Regions from separate parts of the Homo sapiens genome. Here region 1 is linked to region 2. Evidence: fine-mapped expression QTL. A gene starts in region 2. The other region holds a variant in brackets. All regions are shown on one strand. Distances are between the middles of the regions. Region 1 overlaps TIMP2 (TIMP metallopeptidase inhibitor 2). Region 2 holds the start of TIMP2 (TIMP metallopeptidase inhibitor 2).

Region 1 (4,380 bases), 55 kb before region 2:
GATTTTTAGAAGGGAAAAAAGTACATGTCACCTAAACCAGAAGAAAATCCCCCAATCATGGATATTTGGATTTGGAGTATATGTTTATGATTACAGTTGCCTTTTGGAACAAACTATAGTACCAGGCTAGGGGAATTGTCTTGTCTCTTCTTTCTTTTCTCTTTTTTTTTTGTGAGATGGGGTCTTGCTCAGTCACCCAGGCTGGAGTACAGTGGCGTGATCTCAGCTTGCTGCAATCTCTGCCTCCTGGGTTCAAATGATTCTCATGCCTCAGCCTCCTGAGTAGCTGGGACTACAGGCACTTGCCACCACGCCCAGCTAATTTTTGTATTTTTAGTACAGACAGGGTTTTACCATGTTGGCAAGGCTGGTCTTGAACTCCTGACCTCAAGCAATCCGCCCGCCTCAGCCTCCTACATTGCTGGGATTACAGCCATGAGCCACTGCACCAGGCCTTGTCTATTCTTTTTTTCTTAAGTTTGTGATCAGATTCCTACTTCCCCAGGGAGGAGGGGAATAATGTTCCTTAACTGGCTGAGTCAGTGCCATGCTAGACTGCGGCTGCCGGCCACATGTGGCTGTTTACATTTATACTAAAATTACTTGAAATGAAATAAAATTTAAAATGCAGCTCCTCGGCTGCACTAGCCATATCTCGGGTGCTCATGAGCCACAAGGCTGGGGGCTGCTGGACTGGATGGTGCAGAGACCGCTTCCATCACTGCAGAAAGCTCTTTGAGCCCAGTGGTTCTCAAGCAGGGGCAATCTACCCCACCTCCCCTGGGCACATGTGGCAATGTCCAGAGACCCCGCGACTGGAGCGGGTGCTGTGGCATGTAGAGGGTGGGGGCCAGGGATGCAGCTGAATATCCTATAATGCATAAGGTAGGCCCCCACAACAAAGAATGGTCCATCCCCAAATGTTAATAGTGCTGAGATTGAGAATCCTGTCCTGGCCTCCTGTGGTTCAGCCTAGCTGGGCAAGCAGAGGAGGCCGTAGAAGGAAGTAAGGGAAAATAATTTTACTTAGGAATAAAAATATAGGCTGGGCACAGTGGCTCACGCCTATAATCCCAGTACTTTGGGAGGCTGAGGCAGGAGGATTGCTTGAGCCTCGGAGTTCAAGACCAGCCTGGGCAACATGGTGAGACTTCTTTACCAAAAAATAAAAAAATTAGCTGGGTGTGGTGGCACACACCTGTAGTTGATCTCAGCACTTTGGGAGGCTGAGGCGAGAGGATCACTTGACCCCAGGAGATCGAGGTTGCAGTGAGTCATGATCGCACTCCAGCCTGGGAAACAGAGCAAGACTTTGTCTCAAAAAAAAAAAAAACAAACCAAAAAACTATAAACAAAGAGATGCAACAATAAACAAAATGTGCTACATTCATACAATGAAATATTATTCATCCTTAAAAAGTAAGGACATTTTGGGCCGGGTGTGGTGGCTCACGCCTGTAATCCCAACACTTTGGGAGGCTGAGGTGGGCGGATCACCTGAGGTCAGAAGTTGGAGACCAGCCTGGTCAACGTGGTGAAACCCTGTCTGTACTAAAAATACAAAAAAAAATTAGCCAGGTGTGGTGGCGTGTGCCTATAATCCCAGCTACTTGAGAGGCTGAGGCAGGAGAATCGCTTGAACCTGGGAAGCGGAGGTTGCAGTGAGCCGAGATAGTGCCATTGCACCCCAGCCTGGGAAATAGAGCGAGACTCTGTCTCAAAAACAAAAAAAAGAGTAAGGAAATTCTGATGTATGCTGTAACGTGAACGAACCTTGAAAACATGATGCTACTGAAATAAGCCAGACAGAGAGGACAAACACTGCAGGGTTCCACCCATGTGAGGCCCCTGGAGTAGTCAAATCCACAGAGACAGAAAGTAAAATGGAGGTGGGCCAAGGCTGAGGAAGAGAGAAGGGGGAGTTAGTGTTTAACGGGGACGGAGTTTTGGTTTGGGAAGATGTGGAGACAGATGGTGGTGATGGTTGCACAATAGCGAATGTATCTAATGCCACTGAAGTGTACACTTGAAAATGGTTGGCCGGGCGCGGTGGCTCGCGCCTGTAATCCTGCCACTTTGGGAGGCCGAGGTGGGTGGATCACCTGAGGTCAGGAGTTCGAGACCAGCCTGACCAACACGGTAGAACCCCATCTCTACTAAAAATACAAAAATTAGCTGGGCGTGGTGGCGTGTGCCTGTAATCCCAACTACTCGGGAGGCTGAGGCAGGAGAATCGCTTGAACCCAGGAGGTGGAGGTTGCAGTAAGCCAAGATC[G/A]CACCACTGCACTCCAGCCTGGGCGACAGAGCGACACTCTGTCTCAAAAAAAAAGAAAGAAAGAAAGAAAGAAAGAAAGAAAATGGTTAATTAACATGGCTACATTTTGTTACGTATTATTTTACCACAATAAAAAAAGGAGACAGATGAATGAATAAGTCAAGCAGGTCTCGTGCATAGTATCCACAGATGTTACGCGAGCTTTTGGCCCTCCCGACGGCAGAAAGGGTTTCTCTGCCCTGCATGTCTCCAGCATCCCGCACTCGCCTCCCTTTTAGGAACAAAAGGCAAAAATGCTCCCTTTTTTTTGTCCACCAATCTCAAATTTCCCAGGAAATTGGCAGGTAGTGAACATTCACTAGCATTCTCTGACGGGAAGTGGCCGAGAGGGCTCCGTACCCTGCCTCACTGTTCCTCAGCTACTCCGCCTCCCCACCCCCCGAGCCTGGGAAACGAGCCCTGGACCGCGTCTAGGAACAGCCCCACTTCTGTGCCAGCCTCCGGCTGATGGCCCCACTCATACACACCTGCAATGAGATATTCCTTCTTTCCTCCAACGTCCAGCGAGACCCCACACACTGCCGAGGAGGGGGCCGTGTAGATAAACTCTATATCCTTCTCAGGCCCTTTGAACATCTGGAAAGACAAGGAGGAGGACATGTAAGCAGAGGGAGGCCACACAGTTGGTGAATTCCGTTCCCATCCAGAACACCCTGGGCGGCACAACCTGTAGCTGGGGTACAGCCAGCACCCAAGAGGACCAGGAAGTGCAAATACATGGGTTAGGAAAAGACCGTTCCAGCTGGGCTCAGGGCTCATGGCTGTAGTCCCAGCACTTTGGGAGGCTGAGGTGGGCAGGTCGCTTGAGGTCAGGAGTTTGAGACCAGCCTGGCCAACGTAGCAAAACCCTGTTTCTACTAAAAATACAAAAATTAGCTGAGCATGGTGGCAAGCGCCTGTAATCCCAGCTATGTGGGAGGCTGAGGCAGGAGAATCGCTTGAACCTGCGAGGTGGAGGTTGCAGTGAGCTGAGATGGCGCCACTGTACTCCTACCTGTATGACAGAGTAAGACTCCGTCAAAAAAAAAAAAAAAAAAAAAGAAAAGAAAAAGACTTCTTATAGCAAAGTGATTCTTTGGAGTCACTCAACTTTTAGTGTGGCAGATCACAGCAGGTGAGCACAAGACTCATCTGTGCCGGGCGAAGTGGCTCACACCAGTAATCCCAGCACTTTGGGAGGCCGAGGCAGGCAGATCACGAGGTCAGAAGATCGACACCATCCTGGCTAACATGGTGAAACCCTGTCTCTACTAAAAATACAGAAATTTAGCTGGGCGTGGTGGCGGGCGCCTGTAGTCCCAGCTACTCGGGAGGCTGAGGCAGGAGAATGGCGTGAACCCAGGAGGCGGAGCTTGCAGTGAGCCATGATCGTGCCACTGCGCTCCAGCCTGGGAGACAGCAAGACTCCATCTCAAAAAAAAAAAAAAAGACTGTCATCTGGAGCATGACATCCTCAGACAACACCTCTGTTCCCTCACCCCCCACCCCAAAGAGGTCATTTCTGAATCTATGGGGAGGGGCTTTTGTACCTCCACGTGACTCTGGACCACCATGAAGGACCATGACTTTTGCATATTTCCAGGAATTTTTTATTTTTTTGAGATAGGGTCTCACTCTGTTGCTCAGGCTGGGGCTGCAACCTCAACTTCCCAGGCTCAAGTGATCCTCCCACCTCAGCCTCCCGAGTAGCTGGGACTATAGGCGCATGCCACCATGCTTGGCTTTTTTTTTTTTTTAATTAGCAGAGACGAGGTCTCGCTCTATTACCCAGGCTGGTCTCAAACTCCTGAGCTCAAGCAATCCTCCTGCCTCGGCCTCCCAAAGTTCTGGGATTACAGGCATAAGTCACTCCACCCAACCTATATTTCCAGGAATTTTGGTCAAATATTGTCTACTTGATGGCAATGAGAGCAGAGAGGCACCTCAGGAATTAGGACATAACTCCATGGGCCAGAAGAGTTTGCTTTCTCAACATGTGATTTACTCACAGCCTTTCAGGAACGCACCTGCTGCCCAGGTGAAGAATGGCATTTTCTCAGCACTCA
Region 2 (4,380 bases):
AGACAGGCGGAAATGGAAGTGATGTGTTCCTTGAAAATGGAACCAAGCAACATCAAGGAGAGAGGCCTGGAAGAGATTCTCCCTCACAGCCCCCAGAAGGAACTGGCTCTGTGGACACCTTTTCAGACTTCTGGCCTCCTGAGCTACAGAGAATCGATTCCTGTTCTTTTAAGCCCTCCCATTTGTGGTAGTTTGTCACAGCGGCCACAGGAAGCGAATGCCCTGAGCTCTGCAGTGCAACTCTGGCATCTGACTGGGCCTCTGAGCCGGGATGGGGTGAAAAGTTTTAGCTACAGGATGATTTTGATGCAAAGATTTAGACACAAATGCCAGGCAACCCAGAAGAGGAGAGTGCTGCGCTGAGCATGAAGGAGGCGGGAGGCACGCACTGCAGCCCTCCACCCTCTGCCATCCTGGATCCACACCCCACGCAGAAACAGCTCCCAGCTCAGTGGCCGCCTTAACTTATGCCAAGCAAGGACAGAGTGGCTGCCTGGACATTCTCCCACACAGCTGAGGAGTGTGTGTGTGGGGCGGGGTGGGGGGGGGGGCGGGAGGGGGAGGGGTCCCAAGGCCCAACTCCTACAAATCCAACTCCCAGGTCCTTTTATCCACAGCCTCCTTCTGGGCCTTGGCTACATCCTGCCCCAGCACGTGCTGGTGAGCCAAGGAGCCTGGACAGGCCTGCACTCCTCGTGGACCCCCAGAGAAAGGCCCATTATGGCTCCCTCATCAAAGGAACCTCTCCTTCACCCACAAATCTTGCTGAGCACCAAGGCTAAACTGGAGAAAAGACCTCATTTCCCCCAAACTGGGTTTTGTGGAAACTGACACAGGCACACACCAAGCCTTCCGCCCAGGTGGCCTGAGCCACCTGAGACCTGTGATCTCAATAGATTGGTGCAACTGAAAACTTCCCCAGCTGGGCACGCAGCTCCTAGGGCTAACCGGGGTGGGGCAAGAAGCCGTGGGCGGGGTATGGGAAGGGCGTGGCTGACAGCAGGAGAAACAGAAAGTCCCACCTCCACTCTGGGCAGGTGAGGGGGCCCCCGCCTTGCTCCATCTGCCCTGGACAGGTCACTCGACTGAGACTCAGACATAAGAAGGAAGGAGGGCAGGGGGCTCCGAGACCACCTGCCGTGTAGCCAGACTTGCCCCAGGAAAACCATGCTGACCAGCACCAGGGCTGCAGAGGCTTGAGGTGCAGGACCAGGGTGGAAACTTCGAGCCAGCGGGTTCCTCCCATTTCTGCTGGTCCTCCCCCTCCATGGATCAGAACAAATAACTGGGCCCCTCCTGCCTCCCTCCATGGCGCCTGTCTTTTGGGGGCTAGGAGTCCGGAGGTCATGGGTATTTGCTGGGGAATCTGAGCAGCAGCACAGTCCCACGTGCCGGGTCCGGTCACCAAAGTCTCCAGCTTTTGTGGACGTCCCGAAAAAGCGGAACATTCGGGGGTCCCGGTCCCTGCCCAGCCAGTTTGCAGGGCCTCCTGGGCAGGGCGCAAGCAAGGAGCCACGCCAGGAGACGCCACCGGCTTTTTCACCTGCCCCTCTGGGCCTGTGGAACCTGCCTCGGGTAGGGCGGGCTTCCATCCCACCCTGGCTTGATCGGGGAGCCCCCAAATGGGGCTGGTGGGAGAAGCCCCAGCAGAGAAGCCCTTCCCCACCCAGCCCCAAGCCCAGAGAAGCCCAACTCCCACCTTATCTGCGAAAGTTTCTTCCTGGGGTCCCCAGTCCTCCAGCCCCCCGCCCCCACGCCGTGTCCCCCACGCTCCCCGCCCCCAGCGCTGGCATCCCAGGGCGCGCCGCCTGCCAAAAGCCAAACTGGCTCCCTTTCCTGGGGCTGGAGCTGCGGCGGAATTTCGGTGGAATTTTGAGGTTGAGACGCATCTCGGCAAAGAGAGGGAAAGAAAGGGAGAGGAGGGAGGGGGGAAAGAAAGTCGGCTCTGGGCGTCCACTTGCAGGATTCGAGAAGGCGCCGAGGGACCAGGAGGCGGGCGCTGGGGTCCCTCGGCCAGCGGCGGGCGGGCGGGGCGTCTGCGAACCCTCGGGGTCGCGGGGGAGGTGGGGCCCCGCGCGGGGGCTGGGGTCGCCGCTCCTTACCTACATCTGCATTGCAAAACGCCTGTTGCGGGTGCACCGGGGAGCAGCTGCAGGCGTCGGCCGGGCGAAGCAGCGTCGCCAGCAGCAGGAGGCCGAGCGCCAGCCGCAGGGTGCGGGCCGCGGCGCCCATGGCGGGCCGGGGGGCTGGGCGGGCGGGGGCCGCCGCTGGGGGGTCCGGGCGCTGCTCGCGGCGGCGGGCTGGGGGCGCGGGCGGGGGCTGAGCCGGGGCCGAGGCGGGCCCCTCCCGCGCGGCTCACCCTCCTCACCTGCCCCGCTCGGCCGCGCAAACTTTCTCTCCTCTTTGTCTCGGGGGCGCGAGGGGAGGGGCGCGGGGCGCAATTCGCCGGGCGGGGCGGCGGGGTGGGGGGCGGCGGGCGAGCGGCGCTGCGGTTCTCGGCGGCCGCGCTGCCTTCTACGGATGTGTTTGCTGCGGGCTTGGGCCGGGCCGCAGTTTTATTGCGCTCGGAGGATTTTCTGCTCCTCCTCCCGGTGGCTGGCGGCCAATGCAGGCTCTGGGCGCTCCCAGCAGCCCCCTCCTCCCCCTCCGCCCGCGCCTCCCCCCAGCCCGCGCTTTTGTTGTGCCCGGCCTGGCACGTCGGGGGCTTCCCGCACCACCTGGCGCCCGCGACCCGCACCCGCGCGGGGGTCCCCGGACGCCCCCAGCCCCCCGACCCCGGTCCCCGCTGCGTGGCCTTCTGCGCCCGGGGTCCCTGACTCAGCGCGGGGGACTCGCGCCCCGTTCTTCCAGGACACCAGGCGACCCACCCGCTACCCTTTCCCCTTCAGCTCGACTCTGGAGGGCTACGCTGCTCCGTCCCCCGCCACCCCGGGGTCCCTTCGAGCCCAGCCTCGGGGCGAGCCAAGGGGTGTCCTTTGGAGCAGGGGCCGTTCCCTGTCGCCACCTCCCCGTTTCTGTGGGCGGGTGGCCTATTGAGAAACTGACAGGATCCCTTTTTCAAATGGAGGCCTTAGAATTTTAAGTGCGCCTGGCCAGTTTAGTTGGGGGGTGGGGGGTGTGGTTACTGTGAACAAAACAGGATTTTATATAAACTGGCCATATTTTTGACCAGCCAACAAGAGACGGGGGTGGGCCCAGGCGCCCAGGAGCCAGTAGGATCGCAGCAGAGGCATTGGCTGGGTTCCGCTCACAGTTTCCTCTCTTAGTCCACAAATGTGGGAGCCGAAGGACTTTTCCCAAAACAGTTTTGTGTTCCAGGAAAGACCCAGGCATATGAAGGGATGAACATGTGTAGGGTGGTGAGGCGGGCTTCCTGGCTGTGAACCTGCCTGTGCCCGGCTGTGGGCACCCACCCTGTACATTTGGTGTGTGCCCCGTGGGGCTCCATGGACACTGCTGCACTCAGGTCAGCACTCCAGCCCTCAGGTCAGCATTCCAGAGTGTTTGCAGTCCAGCTAGGGAGAGGGAAGCCCAGGAAAATGACACAGGAAGAATCAGGGCGGGCACGGTGGCTTGCGCCTGTAATCCCAGCACTTTGGGAGGCCGAGACAGGAGGATCACTTGAGGCCAGGAGTTTGAGACCAGCCTGGCTAGCATTTAGTAGAGACAGTGAAACCCCGTCTCTACTAAAAATACAAAAAATTAGCCGGGCTTGGTGGTGGGCGCCTGTAGTCCCAGCTACTCGGGAGGCTGAGGCAGGAGAATGGCATGAACCCAGGAGGCGGAGCTTGCAGTGAGCCGAGATCATGCCACTGCACTCCAGCCTGGGGGACAGAGCGAGACTCCATCTCAAAAGAAAAAAAAAAAAAAAAAAAGCCCGGGTGCAGTGGCTCATGCCTGTAATCCCAGCACTTTGGGAGGCTGAGGTGGGCGAATCACGAGGTCAGGAGTTCGAGACCAGCCTGGCGGCTAACACGGTGAAACCCCGTCTCTATTAAAAACACAAGAAATTAGCCGGGCGTGGTGGCGCGCGCCTGTAGTCCCAGCTACTCAGGAGGCTGAGGCAGGAGAATCGCTTGAACCCGAGAGGCGGAGGTTGCAGTGAGCCGAGATTGCGCCACTGCACTCCAGCCTGGGCGACAGAGAAAGACTCTTGTTTTTTTTTGTTTTTTTTTTTTTTTTTTTTAAAAAGAATTGCCCACTAAATTGTGCGGTGCTGACTTGAGGTATGAAACTTTGGAAAATAGTGAAAGAATGGAAAAACAGCTTCTTTCTGTTTGTGTATGTTTTGTAACAGACAGTTCTGAGAAAAGTTAAATAAGCAATGCCGTTATTTTTAGCACCCTGACAAATCCAAAGTCACTTTTTTGGTTTTTGTTA

What was found. PIP is the estimated chance that this variant, and not a neighbour inherited with it, causes the effect.
Region 1: its variant is the best candidate, but not a certain one, in a credible set for the expression of TIMP2 in whole blood (TOPMed, PIP 0.51).

Annotation. Positions count from the first base shown.
Region 1 is chr17:78,868,096-78,872,475 of GRCh38, forward strand. TIMP2 (TIMP metallopeptidase inhibitor 2) reads right to left here. Exons shown (of 5, transcript NM_003255.5): 3 at 2,803-2,911. It overlaps LOC124904068 (a long non-coding RNA gene), which reads left to right. Exons shown (of 2, transcript XR_007065924.1): 2 at 1-135. Among named protein-coding and RNA genes, the nearest start is that of USP36, 29 kb to the left of the region's middle. The variant G/A (reference allele first, on the strand shown) is at 2,276.
Region 2 is chr17:78,922,857-78,927,236 of GRCh38, forward strand. TIMP2 (TIMP metallopeptidase inhibitor 2) reads right to left here and starts at 2,531. Exons shown (of 5, transcript NM_003255.5): 1 at 2,103-2,531. The coding sequence starts at 2,232. RefSeq lists an enhancer at 691-760.